Homo sapiens: one gene and its partners. The protein of the gene in region 4 purifies or fractionates together with the protein of the main gene of each other region. This does not show direct contact. Each region holds a gene or a part of one and is shown on either strand. Other genes may lie near its edges.

What was found.
Region 1: the proteins of CLPSL1 (region 4) and SLC30A5 purify together in Homo sapiens (affinity purification with mass spectrometry; 3 studies listed by BioGRID and IntAct, with this or other methods). This does not show direct contact.
Region 2: the proteins of CLPSL1 (region 4) and NUDT15 purify together in Homo sapiens (affinity purification with mass spectrometry; 3 studies listed by BioGRID and IntAct, with this or other methods). This does not show direct contact.
Region 3: the proteins of CLPSL1 (region 4) and ZYG11B purify together in Homo sapiens (affinity purification with mass spectrometry; 3 studies listed by BioGRID and IntAct, with this or other methods). This does not show direct contact.

Annotation. Positions count from the first base shown.
Region 1 is NC_000005.10:69,125,012-69,131,593, forward strand, and holds the end of SLC30A5 (proton-coupled zinc antiporter SLC30A5), read left to right. Parts: intron 1-2,992; coding exon 2,993-3,121; intron 3,122-4,435; coding exon 4,436-4,606; 3' UTR 4,607-6,058; downstream 6,059-6,582. UniProt on the Homo sapiens protein: Together with SLC30A6 forms a functional proton-coupled zinc ion antiporter mediating zinc entry into the lumen of organelles along the secretory pathway.
Region 2 is NC_000013.11:48,032,980-48,040,728, reverse strand, and holds the start of NUDT15 (nucleotide triphosphate diphosphatase NUDT15), read right to left. Parts: upstream 3,004-7,749; 5' UTR 2,983-3,003; coding exon 2,825-2,982; exon of another isoform or gene 2,737-2,824; intron 1-2,736. UniProt on the Homo sapiens protein: May catalyze the hydrolysis of nucleoside triphosphates including dGTP, dTTP, dCTP, their oxidized forms like 8-oxo-dGTP and the prodrug thiopurine derivatives 6-thio-dGTP and 6-thio-GTP.
Region 3 is NC_000001.11:52,729,431-52,736,456, reverse strand, and holds part of ZYG11B (protein zyg-11 homolog B), read right to left. Parts: intron 1-7,026. UniProt on the Homo sapiens protein: Serves as substrate adapter subunit in the E3 ubiquitin ligase complex ZYG11B-CUL2-Elongin BC. Acts to target substrates bearing N-terminal degrons for proteasomal degradation with the first four residues of substrates being the key recognition elements.
Region 4 is NC_000006.12:35,776,989-35,784,044, reverse strand, and holds the start of CLPSL1 (colipase-like protein 1 isoform 1 precursor), read right to left. Parts: upstream 3,027-7,056; 5' UTR 2,935-3,026; coding exon 2,836-2,934; intron 1-2,835. Other genes in the region: CLPSL2 (colipase-like protein 2), read right to left, coding at 4,515-4,690, 6,116-6,194, 6,464-6,586.

The DNA of each region.
Region 1 (6,582 bases), on a different chromosome or scaffold from region 4:
AACATAAAAGGCAGACCAGGAAAAAACATTTGCAGCACATATAAACAGGCAAAGGTTTACTGTCCATAATTCTTTAAGTCAAGAAAAAGACAATCTTAGCTGTGCATGGTGGCTCATGCCTGTAATCCAGCACTTTGGGAGGCTGAGGTGAGCAGATCACCTGAGGCCAGGAGTTCAAGGTCAGCCTGGCCAACATGGTGAAAGTCCATCTCTACTAAAAATACAAAAATTAGGGTCGGGCACGGTGGCTCACGCCTGTAATCCCAGCACTTTGGGAGGCTGAGGCAGGCAGATCACGAGGTCAGGTGATTGAGACCATCCTGGCTAACATGATGAAACCCCATCTCTACTAAAAATATAAAAAATTAGCCGGGCATGGTGGCGGGCACCTGTAATCCAAGCTACTCAGGAGGCTGAGTCAGTAGAATCGCTTGAACCCAGGAGGTGGAGGTTGCAGTGAGCTGAGATCACGCCATGGCAACAGAGCGAGACTGGCAACAGAGCGAGACTCTGTCCTTCCCCACACACAAAAAAAAAAATTAGGCCTGGCACGGTGGCTCAGGCCTGTAATCCCAGCACTTTGGGAGGCCAAGGCTGGCGGATCACAAGGTCAGGAGATTGAGACCATCCTGGCTAACATGGTGAAACCCCGTCTCTACTAAAAAAAAATACAAAAAATTAGCCAGGCACCGTGGTGGGCACCTGTAGTCCCAGCTCCTCGGGAGGCTGAGGCAGGAGAATGGCATGAACCTGGGAGGCGGAGCTTGCAGTGAGCCATGAACCTGGGAGGCGGAGCTTGCAGTGAGCCGAGATCACGCCACTGCACTCCAGCCCGGGCCACAGAGCGAGACTCCGTCTCAAAAAAAAAAAAAAAAAAAAAAAAAATTAGCTGGGTGTAGTAGTATCGCACACCTGTAATCCCAACTACCTGAGTGGCTGAAGCATGAGAATCACTTCAACCCAGGAGGCAGAGGTTGCAGTGAGCCAAAAATCACACCACTGTACTCCAGCCTGGGCAACAGAGCAAGACTGTCTCAAAGGAAAAACAGTCATGTAGAAAAATAAGATGAGAATATAAACCAGCAATTCCTAGAAATAAACAAATATAAAATAGACTCTCTTTCACCTCGTGGTTTACTACATCATATTAAAGTAATTGGGATCTGCTGATGAAAAGATAGCATCTTGAATATTTAAGTTCTATCATCTTAACCCATTGTTTTCATAAATAAAATTAGTAAAGTTATCTCACCTCATAGTTATTGGATAGTAGTACATCATGGGGTTTTTTTAAGTTTTTGTTTGTTTGTTTTGTTTTTAAATAGAGCTGGGGTTTCTCAATGTTGCCCGGGCTGGTCTTGAAATCCTGAGCTCAAGCTTTGGCCTTCCAAAGTGAGGGATTATGGGCGTGAGCCACCGCGCCTGGCCTAAAGTATTTTTTATTTCAATAATAATATATGTCTGTTGTAGGCCAGGCGTGGCGGCTCACACCTGTAATCCCAGAACTTTGGGAGGCCGAGGCGGGCGGATCACAAGGTCAGGAGTTTGAGACCAGCCTGGTCAATATGGTGAAACCCCATCTCTACTAAAACTACAAAAAATACAAAAATTAGCTGGGTGTGGTGGCACGTGCCTGTAGTCCCAGCTATTCGGGAGGCTGAGGCAGAAGAATCGCTTGAACCCAGGAGGCAGAGGTTGCAGTGAGCCGAGATCACACCACTGCACTCCAGCCTGGGCGACAGAGTGAGACTCTGTCTTAAAAAAACAAACAAACAAACAACAACAACAACAACAACAAAATATATATATATATGTATATATATCCATTGCAGAAAACTTCAAAATATAGAAAAGTGCAAAAAAGAAAAAAAAAAATCACATAATTTTACCACCTGGAAAGAAATACTTTTTGTTTCCTTCCCATTCTACAAAAAGCCATGTAAAGAAACATTTTTACAAGTTGTTTCCATATTAAAATTTTGAAAATAAAAATGGCAAAAAACTTTCGTAATGTTTTATAAATTTTCTCCCCACTTAATAATGTCATGTTGATTAATATTCTAATACATTGTTAATGACTGCATTATTACATTGTATGGGCAGTCAATCATTTATTTAACCAATCCTCTGTTGTTGAACATTGAGGATATCTTTTGAATGTGTTATCTCTATATAACAAATAATGTGCATATGAATGTGTCCGTGTAAAGGAGAACTTGTAGTTCATTGAATGTGTCTAGGTCATGATTAGAATAGGCAGAGTTGTGCTGTATCAGGGAAAATAAGGGTACTGCTATTGATAAGAGCCCATTTTAGGTATAAAGATAACTGTAACAGCTGGGCACGGTGGTCCACACCTATAATCCTAGCACTTCGGGAGGCTGAGGTGGGTGGATTGCCTGAACTCAGGAGTTCGAGACCAGCCTGGGCAACATGGTGAAACCCCATCTGTACTAAAATACAAAAAAAAAAAAAAAAAAAAAATTTAGCCAGGCGTGGTGGCGTGCACCCGTAGTCAGCTACTTGGGAGGCTGAGGCAGGAGAATTGCCTGAACCTGGGAGGCTGAGGTTGCAGTGAGCCAAGATGGTGCCACTGCACTCCAGCCTGCGACAGAGCAAGACTGTCTCAAAAAAAACAAAAACGAACAAAATAAAGATACCTGTAACACCCATTTGCCTTCCTACTCAGAGCTGCCATACTAGCATCATTCCTAGGTGAGATTTTTTTTCCCCCACACATCTGTAGCCTCCAGAAATAGATCAGAATATTTTAGGCACCTTTACTTTAAGCTATTTTCCCATCTCCTATTCCTTCCTGCTTCTGGCTTCTCATTATGGCTGGTTTTTTGTTTGTTTTGTTTTGTATTTTAAAGAGCTTAATAGTGATCCTGGACCAAGGAATCTGTGTGTTTACTTTCTGTCAGAAAGCATCTCCATTGTGTTGTGTAAAGTAGCCTGTATGACCATTTATATCACCTCTTTTATTTGACAGATACAGAAAATTGAAGGATTAATATCATACCGAGACCCTCATTTTTGGCGTCATTCTGCTAGTATTGTGGCAGGAACAATTCATATACAGGTGACATCTGATGTGCTAGAACAAAGAATAGTACAGCAGGTAATCTTTTGTTTTTAAAGTAATTTTAATTGAGGTCATTCATACCCAAAATTGTACACCTCATAAGTTATATGGCTCAGTAGTCATTTACTATTCAGAAATATCAATCTTCCAACTCTTTTTTTTTTTTTTTTTTTGAGACAGGGTCTCACTCTGTTGCCCAGGCTGGAGTGCAGTGGCGTGATCTCGGCCCACTGCAACCTCCGCCTCCTGGGTTCAAGCAGTCTCCCTGCCTCAGCCTCCCAAGTCGCTGGGATTATAGGCACCCGTCACCATGCCCGCCTATTTTTGTTTGTTTGTTTGTATTTTTAGTAGAGATGGGGTTTCGCCATGTTGGCCAGTCTAGTCTCAAACTCCTGACCTCAGGTGATCCGCCTGCCTCGACCTCCCAAAGTGCTGGGTTTATAGGCAAGCCATCATGCCCGGCCTAATCTTCCAAATCTGTAACGGTAATATAGCTTACTTTTTACATCTAGATTTGTTTTATATCTAAAAATTGCTAAAATAAATGAAGTTTTGTGTTTAGAGGATAAGCTTTAATTAATATAAAAAAATTCATTTATGAGTTTGATTAATCTTGGTTTCCAGTAGATTATCAAAAAATAAGTTATTATAAATATATTCCTAAATTAGTAATAATCAACTTGGCAGGGTATATGCTATGTTTGGAGATAGAGGTCAGAATAGTTACTAAAGCCCTGTTCTAGATGTGCCAAATTGGAAACAATGGCTGTTTTCCTTTTCTACTGTGAATGTCAAATCAGTAATTTACTGACCTAAAAGAGTCTAATATTTTAACTAACTAAATGATGAATATTACTTCGAAGATTTATCTTGGACTACTGTAACTGTTTGTTTGTTTGTTTACTCATTCATTTTAGAGACAAGATCTCACTATGTTGCCCAGGCTGGTCTCAAACTCCTGGGCTCAAGCGATCCTCCTGCCTCAGCCTCCCTGGGCCACTGTGCCTGGCCTGTAACTATTTTAAAAATGTGACACAGGTTTAATATTCCTTATCTAAAATGCTTGGAACCAGAAGTGTTTTCGATTTGCGATTTTATTTTTTTTAATACTCGCATTACGCTTACCAGTTGAGCATCCCTAATCTGAAAATCCAAATCCAAAATGCTCCAATGAGCATTTCCTTTTAACACCATCTTGGCACTCAAAAAGTTTCAGATTTTAGAGCGTCTCAGATTTCGTATTTTCAGATTAAAGATACTCAACCCGTATCAACTATGTACAGCATATTAAGACGTGTGTACTAAATGCATTACTCTAAATGCTTCAAAATATCTGGATTTTTATAACAGGTTACAGGAATACTTAAAGATGCTGGAGTAAACAATTTAACAATTCAAGTGGAAAAGGAGGCATACTTTCAACATATGTCTGGCCTAAGTACTGGATTTCATGATGTTCTGGCTATGACAAAACAAATGGAATCCATGAAATACTGCAAAGATGGTACTTACATCATGTGAGATAACTCAAGAATTACCCCTGGAGAATAAACAATGAAGATTAAATGACTCAGTATTTGTAATATTGCCAGAAGGATAAAAATTACACATTAACTGTACAGAAACAGAGTTCCCTACTACTGGATCAAGGAATCTTTCTTGAAGGAAATTTAAATACAGAATGAAACATTAATGGTAAAAGTGGAGTAATTATTTAAATTATGTGTATAAAAGGAATCAAATTTTGAGTAAACATGATGTATTACATCATCTTCAAAAATAGATATGATGGATTCTAGTGAAGACCAAAATTACTTCTGTTTACTTTCTATCAGGAAGCATCTCCATTGTAAATATGTATTTACATGTTTATTACAAAGACCCAAATGAAAAATTTTTAGTCCATTTTTTGCATAGCCTAAAGATAAAATAGGAATAAAAGTTCTATATTTATGGATTTTCTGTATATAAAACTGGTTTCTAATTATAACTTAAGTCCATTAAGTAAAATCTGTATTGCCACTTTAAATGTAAACTAAATTATTTGGGAGAAACTTCAACCACTGATATGAGATAAGCAATGAGAATAGGGAAGTGTATAACATCACAGTTTTTGATGTATTACAAAAATCAACCACTCTATAAAATAAATTTTTTTTACTTTTGGTAATATTTGCAAATGAATAATTAATTTATTAGGGTAAAGAACTTATACTAAGTTGTGTCCATGTTATTCATTTACTTACCATGTTCCTTTAAAGTAGAATATTTCCTTTCTTGTTATATATTTGACATTCCAAGCTGCTTATCAAGCTGGTATCCAAGCAGTGGTAAGCTTTCATCCTTTCTTAGCTCCATAACGTTGTGAAACAGCCAGTTAAGAGAATCGTAAATAATTGTCAACTCACAGTTGAATTCTCTGCCTATGTAGGTAACTTTTTTCTAATTTCTGGAACATATAGATATATAAGAAATATCAAAGAATAGGTAGTTATTTCAAAGTTTAATAAGTAAAACTTGTTCATAAACATTTGAGCACCATGAAATCAAAATACCCTATAACTACTTTCTATAGTCATATCTAATTTATATTTTTTTCATTTCCAGTTGTAACTAGATATGTAGTAAAGTCTGAAAAGACTTTACCATAGACAATAACATGCAGTTTTATCAGCACCAAAGAATGTTGTCCAAAAGAAACTTTTTAATACCTGTCTTTCTATTTATAACATCTGAATATTTTCATTCTTATATTAAGAATTTTGATAAGTAGATTGAATTTAGTATGAGTACTATTTTCTTATATATACCACAATGGCAAACATGTATTATAAATCATATTTTTGTCTTACCAATTTTAATATATGAGGGGTTTTAGAAATTTGTTGTAAGTTATTTTTATATTCCTTGTCTTTTGCATATTTTTTGGCCAAAATCTTCAATACATATTAAAATTTTTGAGTGGTGGGAAAATAATTGCATATTGATGTTTTAATGCAATTTTTATACATTAAAAAATTAAGTAGATAGGTGCAATAAATATTACACCAAAGTTAAAATTGTCATTTCCCTTAGAAGACATATAAACAGCAAAAAAATTAATGTGATTGTGAGATATTAGAGTGAGAGAGAGCAGGGGCTGAAGGTTGGGGAGGTACAATTATAAAGTATGGAAACTCTAATATTGAAAGCACCAGGGTACTGTATTTCAGCTCATGCAAATCATGCAACTAGGCCAGGTGCAGTGTCTCTTGCCTGAAATCCTGGCACTTTGGGAGGCTAAAGCAAAAGGATAGCTTGAGCCCAGGAGTTTGAGAACAGCCTGAGCAACATAGCAAGATTCCATCTCTACAAAAATTTTTAAAAATTAGCTGGGGCATGGTGGCACATACCTCTTGGGAGGCTGAGGCAGGAGGATTGCTTGAACCTAGGAGGCCAAGGCTGCAGTGAGCCATGATGGCACCACTGCTCTCCAGCCTGGGTGACACAGAAAGATT
Region 2 (7,749 bases), on a different chromosome or scaffold from region 4:
TCAGCTGGGCATGTGGCTCATGTCTGTAATCTTTTGGAAGGCCGAGGCAAGAGGACAGCTTGAGTTCAGGAGTTGGAGACCAGCTGAGGCCAACATAGTGAGACCTCATCTCTCAAAAAAAAAAAAAATAGCCGGGCATGGTGGTGCGTGCCTATGGTCTGTGGTCCCAGCTACTCAAGAGGCTGAGGCAAGAGGATAGTTTGAGCCTGGGAAGTCAAGGCTGCAGTGAGCCATGATGGTGCCATTGCACTCCAGCCTGGACAAACAGCAAGACTTTGTCTCAAAAAATAGTAATAATAATTAATTAAAAAGATAAAGATTTAAAACCAGTAAATCAGCAACCTTGCCCTTGACATTATATCCTGTATCTAGTTATCTAAAGATGAAAAGGACTTAATATTGAATAAAAATTAACATTTAGCCATCTCAGCACTAATTTACAGCCCTGGAACCTGTGTGTAACAAGGAGGCAGTTTAGTGCATTAAGAGCAGACTTTGGAGTCAACTAGACCTGGGATTGAGCTCAAAGTTCATTACTTTCCACCTTGGACAAGTAAAAAGAGATTATATTACTTCCTCATGGGGTCACTGTAATTGTATCAAGAAGTGCCACTATGTCTTTTCCAGCAGTCTCAGAATTTCAATTTAAGCCTCAAAACTGAAGACAATAGGTAAAAAGCACTTCTAAATTCTCAAGCAAAAGGGCAAACAGATGTCATCTGAGCTCAAGCTCAAGCTAAGGAAGGCCAGACTAGACCTGTGACTTCTCCGTATCCAGGCTACATAAGAAAGACAGGAGGCCGGGCGCGGTGGCTCACGCCTGTAATCCCAGCACTTTGGGAGGCCGAGGCGGGCGGATCACGAGGTCAGGAGATCGAGACCATCCCGGCTAAAACGGTGAAACCCCGTCTCTACTAAAAATACAAAAAATTAGCCGGGCGTAGTGGCGGGCGCCTGTAGTCCCAGCTACTTGGGAGGCTGAGGCAGGAGAATGGCGTGAACCCGGGAGGCGGAGCTTGCAGTGAGCCGAGATCCCGCCACTGCACTCCAGCCTGGGTGACAGAGCGAGACTCCGTCTCAAAAAAAAAAAAAAAAAAAAAAAAAGGAGATGTTTGAGACAGAGGAAAGTTTGGAGTTTTCAGCCTAGTAGGAGCATTTCCCTTCCAGACTACAAGGGGCCAACTCTGCCCCCCCAAGACAGGTGAGGAACATTCCAAGAGAATCAGTCACAAGATTGGGAGTGACTCAAGAAGGAGATACTCAGTGTGTCACTCCCCTGCTAAAGACATCCTGAGCTGCAGAAACTCACAGGCCTACCCCAGTGCATCAGAAAAGGTGTGCTACAAGGGTGAAAGCTCTTGGGTAAATCTGAAATGTGTCCCTCGGAGTTTCCAGATGCAGATGAATACAGAGGTAGAGCAAGGAAAAAGGGCAGCAGTGGAAATATCATTCCCATTGTGTGTTTCCTTTGGGCCAAGCAGATGCCACAAGAGACTGCTGGGTAATCAAATAGGAGATCCCAGTAGAAAGAAAATGTGGGGTGATGTGCTAAAAGCAAGAGCTAGGAGGTGGGCCAGCATCACAGAAAGCCCGTCACCTATGTCAGGAAAATCTCTGTGGGACTTCCCAACAACTGACAAACATACCCTGAGAAAGCACACATGTGGATATCATGCCCAGAGGACACCAATGGATGGATCAGAGCAGCATCAGTCACCTGAATGGCTTGCTCTCTCTCCTCCTCCAACACACTGGAGAAAGAAGGAAACTCAGAGACAGCCAGGTGAGAAGAGGAGGAGGATACAGAAAAGCAGAACAATGGCTCACACCTCCTTTATGCACTGCAGGGGAGGGATTAGAAACTGGAAGTGACACTGAAGGTTTAAATTGGATTGGACTTTTAAATGCTTGGAAGTGAATCATACTGACCCAAATGTGATTTATTTTTATAACCAAGTGACAAGAAAACTATAGAATTTGCAGGAAACGTCACTGAAGAGGGAAAGAAAAAATCATGTTTGAAGGCAGTGGAAGGAGAAAATAAAACCATTTCCTGTTTGTTCTCCCATCAAATTTAGCCCACTGAGTATGCCAGTTATGTAAAGATCAAATGAAAGTATACATGCAAAGAGCTTGGCATATTATCCAGCCTTTAACAAAAAGCCCATTAGAGCTCAATGTTGGCTATGGTCATTGACCTCACGGGTGGATCACCTGAGGTCAGGAGTTCGAGACCAGCCTGGCCAACATGGCGAAACCCCGTCTCTACTAAAAATACAAAAATTAGCACGGCGTGGTAGCGGGCGCCTGTAATCCCAGCTACCAGGAGGCTGAGACACAAAAATCGCTTGAACCCAGGAGGCGGAGGTTGCAGTGACTGGAGATAGCACCACTGCACTCTGGCCTGGGCTACAGAGCGAGACACAGTCTCAAATCAATCAATCGATCAATCAATCAATCACATGGAAACGGTGCAATGTCTTAGCTGACAATATCGGGCTGCTGGAGGTTTACACACACCTGCTTTCCTCCTTTTGTGTGTAAGCTGTGAGAAACACACCTCACAGACGAACTCCCAACCACCACCCAGCAGGGGCGCAGCCGGAAAGACCCAGCTAGCAAAGACCTCGCCTGACCCAGCACAGCGCCCCCTCCTGGGCGCGATCCTACGTCGCCCAGAAGTCGAGGGGAGGAACCGAGGGAACGCGCAAGAAAGGACGCAGCGTCAGCGCGGACGTTCTCACGCACGGCACACGGAAGCAAGCACGGCGTGAGTTCGTCCCTCTGCGCACGCCCCGGTTTCCTCGCGTCCGCGGCTGCTCACCCGAACTCCAGATGACCTCCAGGGAGTTGGAAACTGCCAGCTCCAACCGAGCCTTTCCTCTTCCCCAGGAGGACGCAACGCGGATGCTTGCAGCTGGTCACCACGACTCCGACTCCGACTCCTGGCCGCCGCCCGCGCGGCTGTGCGCTGGCCGTCATAGCGCGCGGGAGGACGCGCCTGGCAGCGGCAGGAAGTGACGCGCTCACTACCCCGTCCCGCGGCCGCAGCCAATCTCTCCCCGCGAGGGCGGAGGCGCCGAAATCAAAGCGAGAGCGCCTCGGCCTCTCCAGCTGTCCGCGGTGCGTAATGCGTCGCGGAGGGCTATCAGGTTGGGGAATGCCGTGTTTCCTTCCGAAGGGCAGCGTGCCTTAGAGTTTCGCTGTAACTAAAGTCGCTTACAGTTGTGCTTTGAATATTCATCACCCGTCAGCCTATCCACTCCCAGATTCCTGCAAACCATGCATTTACATGTACAAGCCGCCTGCTCTTACCAACCTCGGCACCACTGCACATTCTTTTTTCCGTGAATGACCTCGCCCACCATGGTGCACCCATTTGCCCTGTAGCTCAAATCAGCGTGGTACCAGGATAAGGATAGGTCGTTTAGAAACATCCCATTATAAACAACTATGCTTAAGGTATATTCATAAGTCATGGGAGGAAATAAAGGCTAATTGATAAATCATGCTGGGAAGAGTTAGTTACAAACAGTGGAAAACAGACATTTTCAGATGTTTGCACACCATGCACCATGCAAAATACAAACCAGCTGAATCATAAAAACAAATGACTAGTTACTGGGAGGGTTTTCTCTCTTTCTCATTATTTTTACTTCTACCAAAGTAATGTGCACATACTGGTAATTTTATTTTATTTTAATTTTCACCAAGCTAGCTAATTTTCTTTCTTTTTTTTTTTTTTGTGGAGGTGGGCTGTCGGTCTTTTGTCGAGGCTGATCTCCAACTCCTGTCCTCAAGCAGTCCTTCCACTTGGGCCTACCAGAGTGCTGGGATAACAGGCGTGAACCACTGCGCCTGACCTATAGCTATAATTTTAAGAAGTAAAATGGTGCAAAAACCGCAACAAGAGCAACCTGACCCTCCTACTTTCAGAAACAATCACTTTTAACTCTTTGAACTGTATTTCTGATATTTGCCTACTTATTTCTAAGTAATATGCTTACTCTCCATGTTATACTAAATGGGTATTAAGCTTTTCACAGCATCTCTCCTCACTATCAACATTCACATTCATTACAAAGGTACTTACAATATCTTCTCAAAAAATGGTAGTATATAAAAAGGATAATATATTGAACAATGAGATTAATCCCAGAAATACTAGGTTGGCTTAATATTTGAAAAGCCAATGTAATTCAGCATATTAACAGAGGGAGAAAGGAAATACATATAATCATCTCAATAGATGCAGAAAAAAATTAATAAAATCCGATACTCAGTTGTGATTAAAAAAACTCCACAAAATCTCTGAGCAAACTAGAAATAAAATGAAACTTTAACATGATATATGGCATCTACAAAGACCTACAGCTAACATCATATTTAATGACTGTTTTGAGCTGAATTGTGTCCCCTCAAAATTCCTATGTCGAAGTCCTATCCCCCAGTACCTCAGCATTTGGAGACAGGATCAAGTTAAAATGAAGCCACTAGGGTAGGCCCTATTCTAATGTTATGACTGGTGTCCTCGCAAGAAGTAGAGATTAGAACCCAGACTGTGTTCTATTGGAAGACTGTATGATGACACAGGGAGAAGGCAGCCGTCTACAAGCCAAGGAGAGCAGCCTCAGAAGAAACCAAGTCTGCTGACACCTTGATCTTAGAATTCTAGCCTCCAGTATTGTGAGAAAATTAATTTATGTTATTTAAGCCACACAATCTTTGATACTTTGTTATGGCTTGATACTTTGTTATGGCAGCCATAGCACTAGCCTAGCCTTATCTTGGTGAAAGACAAGATTTGGGAGGAGCTAGGGTATCCACTCTGAGCACGTTTAGTCATCATGTTGCTGGAGATTCTAGTTAGCACAACTCATAAAATTTAAAAATCAATAAAACGTAGTTAAATTGGAAAGGAATAAGTAACCGTCTTTTTTTTTTAAAACAATCCTGAGGAATTAATTAAAAAGCCATTAGAAGAAATAAGTTTAGCAAGGTCGTAGGATTCAAGGTTAATATACACAATTGATTATATTTCTATATATTAGCAATGAACAATTGAAAAGTAAATTTTTAAAACAATACCATTTATAATACCATAAAAAACATAAAATACTTAGAAATATATTTAGCAAAAGATATGGAACACTTGTATACAGAAGACTATAAAACTGAACCAAAAATAAAATTCTAAGCACCTCCACCCCCAGCCATCTGAATGGACTCCTTCCTCTTGGCCAGAGCACTCCAAAGTTAACCTGAAAAACTGGTTGAAGCCATGACAGAGCAGGGGTCAGATATGCCTCATTATGCCACCTTTCTTTTGGAATTCAGGAAAAGCCAACTAGCATTTAACATTAACACAGACCTTAAGTCTGATAAGAAACATTTACAATCTAGTCTCTCTGAAGCCTGCTACCTGGAGGCTTCAGCTGCATGATAAAATTTTGGTCTCCACAACGTCTTATCTTAACCCAGACATTCCTTTCTATTGATAATAACTGTTTCAACCAATTGCCAATCAGAAAAATTTAAATCTACCTATAACCTGGAACCCCTGCCCCACTTCAAGTTGTCTCGCCTTTCTGGACCAAACCAATGGTCAATCTGTATCTTAAGTGTATTTGATTGAAGTCTCATGTCTCCCTAAAATGTATAAAACCAAGCTGCTCCCCAACCACCTTGGGCATATGTTGTCAGGGTCTCCCAAGGGCTGTGTCACAGGCCATGGTCACTCATATTTGGCTCAGAATACATCCCTTCAACTATTTTACAGAGTTTGACTTCTTCCTTTTTTTTAATTTCAAGTTTTTGGTTACATGGATTCGTTCTTTAGCTGTGATTTCTGAAATTTTAGTGCACCCATCACCTGAGTAGTGTACACTATATGTAGTCTTTTATTCCTCACTCCCCTCCAAACTTTCCCCTCCGAGTCCCCAAAGCCCACTGTATCACTCTTATGCCTTTGCATCCTCATAGCTTAACTCCCACTTGTGAGAACTTACAATATTTGCTTTTCCATTCCTGAGTTACTTCACTTAGAATAATGGCCTCCAGCTCCATCCAAGTTGCTGCATAAGACATTATCTTGTTCCTTTTTATGGCTGAGTAGTATTTTATGGTGTATATATACCACATTTTCTTTATCCATTCGTTGGTTGATGGACACTTAGGTTGGTTCCATGTCTTTGCAATTGCAAATTGTGCTGCTATATGTGCATGTGTTTTTTTTTTTTTTTTTTTTTTTGGAGACAGTCTCACTCTGTTGCCCAGGCTGGAGTGCAGTGGCGCAATCTCGGCTCACTGCAAGCTCCGCCTCCCACGTTCACGCCATTCTCCTGCCTCAGTCTCCTGAGTAGCTGGGACTACAGGCGCCCACCACTGCGCCTGGCTAATTTTTTTGTATTTTTAGTAGAGACGGGGTTTCACCATGGTCTTGATCTCCTGACCTCGTGATCTGCCTGCCTCGGCCTCCCAAAGTGCTGGGATTACAGGCGTGAGCCACCGAGCCCGGCCGCATGTGTGTTTTTTATGTAATGACTTATTTTCCTTTGGGTAGATATTCCGTAGTGGGATTGCTGGATTGAATGGTAGTTCTACTTTTAGTTCCTTAAGGAATGTCTATACTGTTTTCCATAGTGGTTGTACTAGTTTACATTTCCAGTAGCAGTGTAAAAGTGTTCCCTTTTCCTCACATCCAGGCCAACATCTATTGTTTTTTTACTTTTTTGTAATGGCCATTCTTACAGGCGTAAGGTGGTATCTCACGTTTTAATTTGCGTTTCCCTGATGCTTGTGATGTTGAACATTTTTTCATGTTTGTTGGCTGTTTGTATATTTTCTTTTGATAAATGTTTATTCATGTCCTTTGCCCACTTTTTGATGGGATTGTTTGTTTTTTTCTTGCTGATTTGTTTGCATTCCTTGTAGATTCTGCATACTAGTCCTTTGTCAGATGCGTAGTTTGCCAGAGTTGGACTCTTTTCATTGATAGAATGTTGCTGAAGAAAATAAAATACTTAAGTAAAAGAAGAGAAATATTATACTCATGGATCAGAAGACTCAATATTGTTAAAATATCAATTCTCTACAAATTAATTTATATAGATTCAATGCAGTCCTGATCAGAATACCAGAAGGCTTCCCTTTCCAGTAGAAATAGATAGGTTGATTCTAAAATTGGTATGGAAACACAAATAACTAGAATAATAGAAACAGTTTTTAAAAAGAAAACATTTAGAGGGTTCACACCATTTGATTTCAAGACTTAGGATTAAGCCACAGTAATCAAGAGAGTATGGTGTTGGTAAAAACATAGACATATAGATCAGTGAAACAAAATGGACTGGAAATAGATCCATATATATGTATATATCCATATATAAATTAATTTTTGAAAAATGTGCAAAGGCAATTCAATAAAGAAAAGATAGTATTTTTAACAAATGGTGCTGGAACAAGTTGACATAAATGTAAACAAAAAGCCTTGATTTATAATTGGCACCATATATAAAAATTAGCTCAAAGTGGATTGTAGACCTAAATAAAAACATCTAAAGTATACAATTTGTACAAGAAAATATAGGTAAAAATCTTTGTGATCTTTGGTTAGGTATAGATTTCGTAGCTATGAAAAGAATGACCCTTAAAAAATGATAATCTGGCTTTCACCCAAATTAAAACCTTTTTCTCTTTGAGAGATACTGCTGTGGACTCAACTGTGTTCCCACAAAATTGACATGTTGA
Region 3 (7,026 bases), on a different chromosome or scaffold from region 4:
AAAGAAAAAGAAAAAAATTAGCTGGGCATGGTAGTGCATGCCTGTGATACTCAGGAGGCTGAGGTGGGAGAATCACTTGATCCCGGGAGGCAGAGGTTCTAGTGAGCTGAGATCACGCCACTGCACTTCAGCTTGGGTGACAGAGAGAAACTCTGTCTCAATAAATAAATAAATAAATAAAACACTTTCATTCAACAACTATTTGCTGAGTCCCTACTATGTGCTAGACATCACCAAGTACACAGGATACAGATCTCTGTAGATTCACTGCTGTCTATATGAATGGCTGTTAGCTGAATTGTGCAGTACAATCTGTATAGCACAGCAGCCCTGTAAGACCACTGTAAACTAGCAGGGCCGAAACTGCAGGCTCCACAAGGATCTTAAGGAGTTCACAAATTCCCATGCATATCAAGTACACTCTGTACACAATAATATCTTGATATTTTTAATGCATAATAGATGTTAGACTTAACAGAGTATCATTTTAAAATATTACTGAATTCCTACTGGACCTGCTTTTTGCTTTTTCTCCCCCACAATTAATATGTTCTGAAAGTATGTTACTGTCCTGTCTCTCAAGGTTTTCAGTGTTAAAAAGGTATCTTCACAGGGTCTATTGTCTCAGACAATAGGGAGGAATTTAAAACTTCTGAGTAGGAAGACCAAGGCAGGCAGATCACTTGAGGTCAGGAGTTCGAGACCAGCCTAGCCAACATAGTGAAACCCCATCTCTTCTAAAAAATACAAAAATTAGCCGGGCATGGCAGTGGGCGCCTGTAGTTCCAGCTATTCAGAAGGCTGAGGCAGGAGAATCACTTGAACTCGGGAGGCGGAGGCTGCAGTGAGCCGAGATCGCGCCACTGCACTCCAGTCTGGGTGGCAGAGAGAGACTCTGTCTCAAAATAAAAAAAATTCTGAGTAGGAAGAGTGGCACGCCTCCAGTCTTTTCTCATTCCACCCTTGCCTAGTTACTATACAATTTCTTTTTCTTTCATTTATGAGCCTGAAAAATCTTAATCACAATTACTTAGTGTGAGAATAATACTTGTAGCATTAAGTTTGTCAAAGAAATACTTAAGTGCTGAAGACATATTGTTCTTCAAAGTGCTTTAGAAAAGTGATTTGGGCCGGGCACGGTGGCTCATGCCTGTAATCCCAGCACTCTGGGAGGCCGAGGCAGGCGGATCACCAGAGGTTGGGAGTTCGATACCAGCCTGACCAACATGGAGAAACCCCTCTCTACTAAAAATACAAAATTAGCCAGGCATGGTGGCACATGCCTGTAATCCCAGCTACTAGGGAGGCTAAGGCAGGAGAACCGCTTGAACCTGGGAGGCGGAGGCTGCGGTGAGCCGAGATCGCGCCATTGCACTCCAGCCTGGGCAACGAGAGAAACTCCGTCTCAAAAAAAAAAAAAGTGATTTGGACCGGGCGCAGTGGCTCATACCTGTAATCCCAAAACTTTGGGAAGCCAAGGCGGGCGGATCACCTGAGGTCAGGAGTTCAAGACAAGCCTGACCAACATGGAGAAACCCTGTCTCTACCAAAAATACAAAAATTAGCTGAGCACGGTGGCACATGCCTGTAATCCCAGCTACTCGGGGGGCTGAGGCAGGAAAATCGTTTGAACCCGGGAGGTGGACGTTGTGTTGAGCCCAGATTGCACCATTGCACTCCAACCTGGGCAACAAGAGCGAAACTCCATCTCAAAATAAAAGAAAAAGAAAAAGAAAATTGGTCAGAGAGTGTGTACAATTTTGTGGTTCTTGAACTCATACTGCCAAATCACTTTTTTTTTTTTTGGAGCCAGAGTTTCACTCTTGTTGCCCAGGCTGGAGTGCAATGGCGCGATCTCGGCTCACTGCAACCTCCGCCTCCCAGGTTCAAGTGGTTCTCCTGCCTCAGCCTTCTGAGTAGCTGGTATCACAGGCATGCGCTACCACACCCAGCTAATTTTTTATTTTTTATTTTTTTTTGAGATGGCAACAGATTGAGACTCTTTAAAAAAAAAAACCTTTTATTCCATTGTTAATAATGACTATTTCTACCGCTTATTAAATATACTTTAAGAGCTAGTTTTAGGACCTATGAAAAAAGCAGTGTTTTAGCCAGCATTTCCCAATTCATCTACAGGCTCACATCATTACATTCAATATTGATGTCTGCCGGGCTCATGGCTTGACATCCCAGCACTTTGATGGGCTGAGGCAGTAGGATCACTTGAGCCCAGGAGTTTGAGACCAGCCTGGCAACATAATCTAGACCCTACCTCTACAAAAATAAAAAAAATTAGCTGGGCATGCTGGCATATGCCTGTGGTCCCAGCAACTCAGGAGGATGAAGCAAGAGATCATCTAAGCCCAGGAGTTCATGGTTATAGTGAGCTATGATTACGCCCCTGCACTCCAGCCTGGGCCACAGAGCAAGACCCTGTCACTATGAAAAAACAAAACAAAAAAAAATTATGTCTATTTCAATTTGTATATTTTTGAATATTTAATAATTATCTAAAATTTTCTCCTTTATAAAAATAGAATAGTTTGAGAGTATCCAACAATTTATCTACTGAATGTGTGTCAATTAGTGGGAATTAGGAGAATGGCTCATGATAAAGTCATTGCATTGTTATAACTTAATCTGAACACTGAATGCAGTAGCTTTTCTTTGTATAACAAACTGTTAAAGACAAGAAATATAAGTACATTGATGATGAAATACAAGAATGAGTACATTTATCTGATCATGATTCTTAAATGATACATCAAGATATCTCTGATTGATTGATTGATTGATCTTACAGTGTCTTGCTCTGTTGCCCAGCCTGGAGTGCAGTGGTGTGAACCCTGCTCACTGCAGCTTCAACCTCCTAGGCTCAAGCAATCCTCCCACCTCAGCATCCTGTGTAGCTGAGACCCCAGATGTGCGCTAATTTTTTCATTCTGTGTAGAGATAGGGTCTCACTATCTTGTCCAGGCTGGTCTCGAACTCCTGGGCTCAAGCAATCCACCCACCTTTGTCTCCCAAAGTGTTGGGATTATAGATGTGGATTACAGGCGTGAGCCACCATGCCCAGCCTCACAAAAACTATACAAAAAATATACTCTTGGAAATCATTAAGCATGACCTCTAGAACAAACACATTTAATAAAAAAGAATAAAAACTAACATTCTATTTAAGAGATATTACTATTATTTTGAAATCAGGGAACCTATAAAAGGTTTGATATACAAATTTTACCACAGAGTAAAATCTGATAAAACTTTCTCAGTAACTTAAGATAATTTTACGTACAGAAATTCAATGCAAGATACTCTGAAAATGACTAGAATGATGATCCTACAGAGAACTAGCTGAGGCTTGTTTGTAAATTTTACTGAAATAGGAAATAATTCTGTCTTTGTATACAATTGCTTCCACGCATGAGCTTTATCTAAGGAAAATAACCTCCTATGTTGGGTTAATAATTTTTTTTTTTTGAGATGGAGTTTCACTCTTTTTGCCCAGGCTGGAGTGCAATGGCTCGATCTCAGCTTACTGCAACCTCCGCGCCCCCCGGGTTCAAGTGATTCTCCTGCCTCAGCCTCCGGAGTAGCTGGGATTACAGGCACCCGCCACCACGCTCGGCTAATTTTTGTATTTTTAGTAGAGACAGGGTTTCACCACATTGGCCAGGGTGGCCTTTTTTTTTTGAGACAGAGTCTTGCTCTGTCGCCAGGCTGGAGTGCAGTGGCACAATCTCGGCTCACTGCAACCTCTGCCTCCCGGGTTCAAGCGATTCTCCTGCCTCAGACTCCTGAGTAGTTGGGACTACTGGTGTGTGCCACCACGCTCAGCTAGTTTTTCTATTTTTAGTAGAGACGGGGTGTCTTTTTTTAACCTCTGTAATCACAGTGTCTCAATCTCTTGACCTCGTGATCCGTCTGCCTTGGCCTCCCAAAGTGCTGGGATTACAGGCGTGAGCCACCACACCCGGCCAAATTATTAATTTAGAATTTTAGTCAGCTAATAAATTATATGTCTAATAATAGGGGGAGATACAGAATGCCACTAGTGTTAATATTTAATCTCTGTATACAAGATATAATTTTCTTTTAAGCAAGAAGGAAATTTAGTAAGATTTCCCTCCTATTGTAGGACATTTCTCCACTTGTGCTTCTGAATAACTCTGATTCATACTGGCCTGAGACTGCTCAGACTTATGGTTCAAAAGCATAAGCTTGGAAGGGATTTCAATTTATTTATTGATTCCCCTACACACATCCTTTTTCAAGTTTCAAGAACACATTTACTGATACTAATAATAACTTCCATCTTTTTAGTTCAAAATGTCACTGTCATAAGAAAAAAATAGGCTGGGCACGATGGCTCAGGCCTGTAATCCCAGGACTTTGGGAAGCCAAAGTGGGCAGATCACGTGAGTCCAGGAGTTTGAGAGCAGCCTGGGCAACATGGTGAAACCCCATCTCTACAGAAATACAAAAATTAGCCTGGCGTGGTACTGCACGCCTGTAGTCCCAGCTGCTTGAGTTGGATGAGGCGGGAGGATGGCTTGGGCCTGGGAGGTCGAGACTGCAGCAAGCCGTGGTTGCACCACTGAACTCCAGCCTGGGTGACAGAGTGAGATCCTGTCTCAAAAATAAATAAATAAATAAAAGCTATTAGTGTTGCTGCTTAACCATCCCATCTAAAATAGTTGCCCTCTCACACACACACAATATCACTTTATATCTTAGCCTGGTTTATTTTTTCTTAGTATTTATTATATAACTATTGTCATTATACATTTATAGGTGTATTTATTGTGTATCCCCTCCCTGTACCCCATGTCTTTTTTTCACTTCTGTAATCACAGTGCCTAGAACATCACCTAGCCCTTAGGAGCTGGTCAAAAATCATCTCTTTATCAATGATTTTTATATTCTGGACATGGAAAGAGACTCTAATCAAATAATTACAGTAAGAAATATAAAATTCCTGTTGCTATGTATTCTATGAAAAAGTGCTACATAATAAAGAGGAGAGTGACCTAGGTTTTTTGGACAGCGTTTCCCTGAGTTCCTTGAATGGAGAACTCCAGGATATGTTAGAGTTAGGCAGGCAAGAGAGAGTATCACCACAGGTCATTTGCACATGCTGCTCCTTCTGTCTGGACTCTTTTTTTTTTTTTTCTTTTTTTTTGAGATGGAGCCTCACTCTGTTGCCCAGGCTGGAGTGCAGTGGCACAATCGCAGCTCACACTGCAGCCTCCACCTCCCGGGTTCAAGCAATTCTCCTGCCTCAGCCTCCCGAGTAGCTGGGATTACAGGCACCTGCCACCATGCACAGCTTATTTTTGCATTTTTAGTAGAGACGGGGTTTCTCCATATTGGTCAGGCTGGTCTTGAACTCCTGACCTCAGGTGATTCACCCACCTCGGCCTCCCAAACTGCTGGGATTACAGGCATGAGCCACTGCACCCAGCCTATCTGGACTATTCTTTACATAACTCCTACAATTTAATCCCTCAGTTCTCTACTTGAAAGTAAGACCCTCTGCAAAGCTACTCCTAACTATTCCATTCCATTATTCCACAACTTCTCTTTTCTTTCCTTTCTATTTTTTTTTTTTTTTAATGAGGTCTCGCTCTGTTGCCCAGGCTGGAGTGCAGTGGCATGATCATAACTCAATGCAGCCTTGAACTGCTGGGCTCAAGTGAGCCTCCCACCTCAGGCTTTAGAGCAGATGGTACTACAGGCATGCACCACCATGCCCAGCTATCAACTTGTCCTTTTTCAGCACACTCAAGATATATTAAAACTCTTCACATTTAAAATTACTGTATGAAGGCTGGATGCAGTGGCTTGTGCCTGTAATCCCAGCACTTTGGGAGGCCAAAGCGGGAAGATCCCTGGAGGCCAGAAGTTTGGTACCAGCCTGGCCAACACAGGGAGATCTCTTCTCTACACAAAAACAAAAAATCAGCTGCACATAATAGAGCACACTTGAAGTCCTAGCTTTACTTGGGAGGCTGAGCTGGAAGGACTGCTTGAGCCTAGGGGTTTGAGGCTGCAATGAGCCGTAATCACGCCGCTGCACTCCAGTCTAGGCGGCAGAGCCAGACCCTATCTCAAAATAAATAAATAAATACATAATAAAATAAAATTACTCTATATACATGAGATGAAAAATGCCAGAGGTCACATCTATTTTACTATCTGTCATTTCCCCAGTGTCAACACAGTCAAAGACACTCCAAAAACATTATTAGATTAATTAAAAGTAAGGACTATGTCTTAGACCAGTAGTTCTCAAATTGTGGTTCACAGACCAGCAGCATCAGCATTATGTGGGTTTTGACAGAAATGCAAACTTTTGTAGTAGTTCACGTCTATAATTCCAGCACTCTGGGAGGCTGAGGCAGGAGGATCACTGGAGCCCAGGAGTTTGAGGCCAGCCTAGGCAACATGGCGAAACCCCATCTCTGCAAAACATATAAAAATTAGCCAGGTGTGATGATGGGCACCTGTGGTCCCAGCTACTTGGGAGGCTGAGGTGAGAGGATCGCTTGAGCCTGGGAAGTCAAGGCTGCAGTGAGCTGTGATCATGCCACTGCACTTCAGCTTAGGGACAGAGCAAGACCCTGCCTCAAAAAAAAAAGAACTGCCACCTCTCAGGCCCTGCCCTCAGTTCACTGCAACCTCCACCTCCTGGGTTCAAGTGATTCTCCTACCTCAGCCTCCCGAGTAGCTGGGATTACAGGCATGTGCCACCACACCCAGCTAATTTTTGTATTTTTAGTAGAGACGAGGCTTTGCCATGTTGGCCAGGCTGGTCTCGAACTCCTGACATCTTAAACATCTCAACTATTCAAACACAACCTAATTAACATTTAACAAATATAAAATACAAAGCTTTATAATAATCATTCATTCAACTGTATTTATTATCTACAAAAATATTGCACGAGAAAGTGGCCTCTACTGATAATTCCTAGCTCAAAATAAGCTAATATTCTGCCTTCTCCTCACCTCTCCCATACATAC
Region 4 (7,056 bases):
GGTGCACCCCAGCCACCTGAGGCTGTATCACAGGTGTGTCCCTAACCTTGGCAAAATAAACTTTCTAAATTGACTGAGACCTGTCTCAGATATTTTGGGTTCACACTAGTAACTGCACTATTGGACACACACAGCTCTAGAGAGGGAAGACAGGGAAGAGATACATAAGTGAAATGATACGGTATCACAGAAAAAACGTTGAGCAAAATAAGTCAGATTTTTTTTTTTTTTTTTTTTTGGAGATAGAGTCTCGCCGTCGCCCAGGCTGGAATGCAGTGGTGCGATCTCGGCTCACTGCAAGCTGTGCCTCCCAGGTTCACGCCATTCTCCTGCCTCAGCCTCCTGAGTAGCTGGGATTACAGGCACCCGCCACCACGCACAGCTAATTTTTTTTGTATTTTTAGTAGAGACAGGGTTTCACTGTGTTAGCCAGGATGGTCTTGATCTCCTGACCTCGTGATCTGCCTGCCTCGGCCTCCCAAAATGCTGGGATTACAGGCATGAGCCACCGCGCCCAGCCCCCCTTTTTTTTTTTGAGACAAAGTCTCACTCTACTGCCCAGGCTGGAGTGCAATGGCACTTTCTTGGCTTAGTTCAACCTCTGCCTCCCGGGTTCAAGCAATTCTCCTGCCTCAGCCTCCCAAGTAGCTGGGATTATAGGCATGTGCCACCACACCCAGCTAATTTTGTATTTTTAGTAGAGATGGGCTTTCACCATGTTGGTCAGGCTGTTCTCGAACTCTTGACGTCAGGTGATCCACTTGCCTCGGCCTTCCAAAGTGTTAGGATTACAGGCGTGAGCCACTGCGCCTGGCCCAAATTTTTTTTTAAAAGTACATACTGTGTGATTTCATCATACAAAGTTCAAAACTAATCTATAATAATGGAAGTCAGGAGACAGTTGCCTTTGGTGCTATTGACTAGGAGAGTAAGAGTGAGGCTTTTGGGGTAATGAAAATGTCCTATATCTTGTTCTGACGGTAGTGATGAGGGGGTCTGCATAGGTTCGAATCCATTGATTTCCATGTAAACTCAAGATCTGAGCACCTAGTAAGGTGTGATTTTTACCACATATGTTATATACATAACAATAAGTAATATTTATATTATATATGTATAATCCTATTATGTACGATTATGTGCTATAAAGAAAATAAGGCAGGAAAGGAGGATTGGCTATAGCCGCCTCCCGGCCTCCCTGCTTCCATCCTTGCCAGTGACCTCCCCCAGGTACCCCCTCACCATCCCCACTCTCACTTCCACCTCCCCAACCTCCTCAAGTCAGTTCTTCCCAGAATAGCTAGAGGAGTCTTTTTTAAAAGATAATTCCCACAATGCCATTCTCTGGATTCAAAGCCATCACTGGGGCTCTGAATCCACACCTGGCCTGGCCCCAGGGCATTTGCGCTTGCTGGCCCTCTGCCCAGAGCACCCTGTCCTGCACTCTTTGCCCGGCTGCCTCCCCCTCCTGCCTCAGGCTGAAGACTTCCTGGACACCAGCAGAGCAGTCCCCATCACCTGGTTGTACTTTGTTCACAACACTTATGACTCTCTGAAATCATCTTATTTATATGTTTAAAAATAATTTATTTCCCCCGCTAGCAACCTCAGCTCTGGGACATGGATCTTCTGCTCTCACGTTCACTGCTATATTTCTTAGCCCCCTTGGACTAAAGTCCTTACACATTGCAGGTGCTGAATGCATAACTGTTGAATAAATGAGAATATTGTAACTGTGTTCCATTTATCTCTCTGAGCTCATCTCCCATGATTTCCACTCTCTCTTACTCCTCTTTGCTATTCCTTGAATATGCCAGCACATTTCCGCCCCCAGACCTTTGCCCTGGCTGTTCCCTCCACCTTGAATGCTCTTCTCCCAGAGACCCCCCTGCTTTGCCGGTTAGGAAGGACTTCCCTCCCTTTAGGTCTTTGCTAAAATTTCACATTCTTAGTAAACTCTTCCCTGAGCACCCCATTTAAAACTGCAAACCCTGGCCAGGTGCGGTGGCTTACGCCTGTAATCCTAGCACTTTGGGAGGCCAAGGCGGGTGGATTGCTTGAGGTCAGGAGTTCAAGACCAGCCTGACCAATACGGTGAAACCCTGTCTCTACTAAAAATACAGAAAAAAAAATTAGCTGGGCGTGGCAGTGGGTGCCTGTAATCTCAGCTACTCGGGAGGCTGAGGCAGGGGAATCGCTTGAACTCAGGAGGCTAAGTTTGCAGTGAGCCGAGATTGCCCCACTGCACTCCAGCCTGGGTGACAAAGCAAGACTCTGTCCCAAAAAAAAGAAAAAGAAAAAGAAAAAAAAAAAAAACACCTGCAAACCCTTCTCACACCACCACTCCCACAGCTCGATTCTTATTTTCCCTTTCCTTGCTTATCACCTGAGATAGATGCTATTATTAATAGCATCTATTGTAATGTTTTACTTCTTTGCCTCACACACTAGAGTGACAGCTCTACAAGGGCAAGGATTTTTATCTTTCTTGCTCACAGCCCTATCACTAAATGTAGAAAAATAATTTACATATAGTAGGTGCTCAATAAAAATGTGTTGCATGAGTGAATATCTGTCTCCCTTACCACATGTGCGCATGGGCAGGGGGGCTCTCTCACATTCACCTCTGTGGCAGCAGCACCTGGCACTGCCCTGGCACAGCTTCCAGGACCAGGTTGTTCTCTCTTTCCTCCGAGACATCTTCCACCCAACACTCCCTGCTGCCCCCACTTCTGGCCTTCTCCCACACTAGCCCCCATGCCCGCTCACCTCCCCAAATAGTACAGGCCTTAGGACAGTGGAGGGGGAGGTGACTGCACTCTCCAGCTTTCTTACCAAAAGGTTGTATTTTGTTGGAGAAAGTGAGCCCCTGGTGAGGAGGAAGAGAAAGAAGAAGAGAAGGAACAGCAGCAGCAGCCATTGGGGTAGCATCATGGCCCACAGGTCGTGGTGGCTTTTCTAGGGTCCAGCGAAATATCCTGCACGCCGACCATGTGGGTGTCCTCCCAGCTGTGGGAACACCATGTAAAACCAGCACCCAACCCCGTCAGAATTTTCCCATCCTGCACAATACTCAGGCTAGGCCAATCAGCAAATTCCACCACAATAATTAGTTCAGGCAGACTAAGCCAATCCAATCAGAACCGATCTTAGGATGTTTGCTGAAAATTGTGGAACAGAGATGTTTTCTTTCTCTGAAAGGCACAGTATTGATGTACATGGTGGATTTGTGGTTAAGAGCCTGGCCTCTGGGGCAGGATTGTCTGGGTTCAAGTCTCAGTTCCAACCCTTACTTTAGGAGCCTCGATACCCTGTTTGTAAAATAGGGATAATTATAACACCTACTATAGCCCTGTTGTGACAAAAAGATGAGTCAATACAGTTAAGAAAGCACTTTGGGCCAGGCGCAGTGGCTCATGCTTGTAATCCCAGCACTTTGGGAGGCTGAGGCAGGAGGATCACTTGAGCCCAGGAGTTTGAGACCAGCCAGGGCAATACAGTGAGGCCCTGTCTCTATTAAAAAAAAAAAAAGAAAAAGAAAAAGAAAAAAAATTGGCCGGGCATGGTGTCACACACCTGTAGTCCCAGTTACTTGGGAGGCTGACGTGGGAGGATCTTTTGAGCCCAGGGGGTTGAGGCTGCAGTACGCTGCGATCGAGCCACTGCACTCCAGCCTGGGTGCTGTCTTAAATTTTTTAATTAAATGAAAAAGAAAGCACTTTGCACAGTGTCTGGCACATAGGAAGTGCTCAATAAATCCTACCTGTTATTAGGTGACACCTGGAATGTTTGTGACTACTGGGAAGGAATTCAGCCTGAGAGCTGCTGGCTCTGGCCCTACCTAAGGGTTGCCTGACCTCTGGACTTTCATTTCCCATCACCAGTAAATCCCCTCCTCACCTAGACCAATTTGAGTTGGTTTTTAAGATACTTGCAGCAGAAAGAGGCCTCACTGCTACCCCAATGATATGACCTAGGGCAAGTCATGTCGCTTCTCTGGGCCTCAGTTTCTTTGTCCATGCAGTGAACCGACAATACCTGAGAGAGCGGAGGCATCCATGCACCAGGTCCCTTTCCCACCACAGGCATTTCTGCATTTATACTTTGCACATTCTCACCAACTCTCTAATGATCTCTACCCTTTTGTGCCCCACAACCCGCCCCGCAAAACATTCAGATACCTCCACCTAGTCTCTCCCTACCACACACCCCTCCATAGGCACCCCAACATACACTCTCCAGGTACATTCCTCAATCCCGTCTCTCCCACACAGCCCTCCAACCAGAGAATCAGCCCTTTCCCAGACCCAGCCCCTGCTCCACCACACCCTCCCTGTGCCATTCCCTTCCTGCAGTTCTACCCTGACCTCCGGACAGGGCCAAATCCCATTAGAAGCTCATTCATGCCTCCAGTCTCCCCTTTTGCCTGCCCCCTGGACTGGTACAATCTCCACCAGGTCCCCTCGCCCAGAAAGTACAGACAGAGGCCAAGGACAGGAAGTGACTTTAATGTCTCAGGAGCTGGATTTGGAGCAAGTTGGTGGCAACCAGGGCCTATGGCCCCAAGGGAGCAGTGACCAGCCTGCATCTTCCTCTAAATCATATGGCACCGGCGGGAACACATCAAGTCCTTGGATATGCACGTCAAGCCCATCCGGCAAGGGCAGATGATGTTGGTAGCTCCCTTGGTCTGCAGGGAGTGGGTATGAGAATCGGGAGTCACCAGGATGCAGGAAGGATGGGGACTTAAACTTCTTGGGGACCAGAACCAAGAGTACCAGGCCTGGAGTAAGACAGACCTGGGCTGTCTCTACAGCTTATAACTGCGTGACCTTCAGCAAGTCAATGAACCTCTCCAGCTCGGTTTCCTCATCTGTCAAATGGGGACAGTAATAGTAACCCCCCTCATAGGGTTGTTGTGAGGACTAAATGAGATAGAGCAGATCAAGTGGTGATAATAAAAAGACCCTTTAGGCCATGCGCGGTGGCTCACCCCTGTAATCCCAGCGCTTTGGAAGGCCGAGGCGGGTGGATCACCTGAGGTCAGGAGTTTGAGACTAGCCTGGCCAACATGGTCATGGACTAATAATATAAAAATTAGCACATGCCTGTAATCCCAGCTACTCCAGAGGCTGAGGCAGAGGAATTGCTTGAACCCAGGAGGTGGAGGTTGCAGTGGGCCAAGATCACGCCATTGCACTCCAGCCTGGGCAACAAGAGCAAAACTCTGTCTCAAAAAATAAAAAAAATAAAAACCCTCTAGCCACTTCAGCTATAGGGTCAGGCCATGGTAGGGGCCCTGCTGCTTCCTTAGGGCATTGGCAACTCCCCACACAGGGACATAGAGGCTGGGTCCATCCATCCTAGAAAGGTTTGGGCCCAGGGCCAGGTGGGCAGGAACAGGGCGTACTGAGCATTCTGCTCCCTGCATTCCTAAAAGCGAGTGACAACCATGCTGGACTGCACACTCTCCTTGCCAGGACCACATAATCTTCCCAACAGCCTGGTGGGGTAGGTACTTTAGCCTCTCCTTGTAGATGAGGAAACTAAGGCTCAGAGAGCCATGATGACCTGCTTGAAGTCACAAAGATAGGGTGTGGAAAAGTCAGGATTTAAACTCAGGTCCAACTGCAAAGCTGTGGTCCTGCCACTGCAGTGCCATGCTCCTCTCAAGAAATCATGTCACTGTGGCAGGGAGATGGGGACTAGTAAGGGGAAGGTCATTTCCTACTTACCCTGCCTCAGTGGTGTGAGAGAAGAGATATTCATTCATTCAACAAGCATTTATTGGCCGGGCACGGTGGCTCATGCCTATAATCCCAGCACCTTGGGAGGCCGAGCCAGGTGGATCACCTGAGGTCAGGAGTTCAAGACCGGCTTGGCCAACATGGCAAAACCCCATCTCTACCAAAGATACGAAAATTAGCCAGGCATAGCGGTGCACCCCTGTAATCCCAGCTACTCGGGAGGCTGAGGCCCAAGAATCGCTTGAACCCAGGAGGCAGAGGTTGCAGTGAGCCGAGATCATGCCATTGCACTCTAGCCTGGGTGACAGAGCGAGACTCCATCTCGAAACAAACAAACAAACAACAATAAGCATTTATTGAGCACCTACTATGTGCAGATACTAAGCTGGGGGTAGGTGCTTCATAGATGAATATGATGCGATCCCTGCCCTTGAAGAGTTCCAACCACTGGGAGAGGCAGAGAAAAGACATGGCCAGTTAGGGAGATACATGGTCTGCTGAGGGTCTGACCCCAGGGTACAGGAGCTCCAAGGAGGGAAGCCTTCTCAGAGGAGGTGGCTGGAGTTGTTTTGCACCATGAGTAGGAGTTTGCCAAGTGGAGAAGAAGAAGGGCACTCCAGACAGAGGTGAAAAAACAGGTGGGGCCAGGTGTTTTTTTTTTAACCTCCCTGCCCGCTTCTCTACTTGCCAGAAGTTGCCCCATACTAGGGCCTCACCTGGGGCAAGCAGATCATGGTTATTCTGGCCCTGGGGGCACAGAAGGCTCCACCGGAGTCCAAGTCCATGAGGCAGCAGCCACTGTAGCACTCAGAGTGGTGGAAGCACCTGTCTGTGATTTTCTGTGGGGACAGGCAGAATGTCTGCCAGGCTGGGAGCAATCCCTGAGTCGTGTGGGCGGGTAGGGGAGGGTTCCCACCATTGCCAAAGAGCCCAGGGATCCAGGAGAAGTCATGAGGTTGTCACCCCTTGGGGGGCTGGTTCCCCCCCCAGCCCCACCCCGGCCCCTCAGCAGGACCCAGGGCAGCAGAGAGGAGGAGAGGGGGATTAGCACTTTTCCCTCGGCCTCTCCTTTCCTGGACCCCCCTCACCTCCATGAGTCCCATGGGGTGTGTACTCTTAAGTCCCATTTTGCGGGGCAGGGTTGGGGGATGAGAATGAAGGGGCTGCGGGCTCGAAAAAGAGGGAGAGAAAGAGGAGAAAAGGGGAGAGCCCTCGTGCCTGGAAGAATCACTAGACAGTGAGAGGAGGTGGAAGAAGAGGAGGAGAAACCAGAGCATGCAGGGTGGGTTTGCCTGTGAGCAGTTTGGGG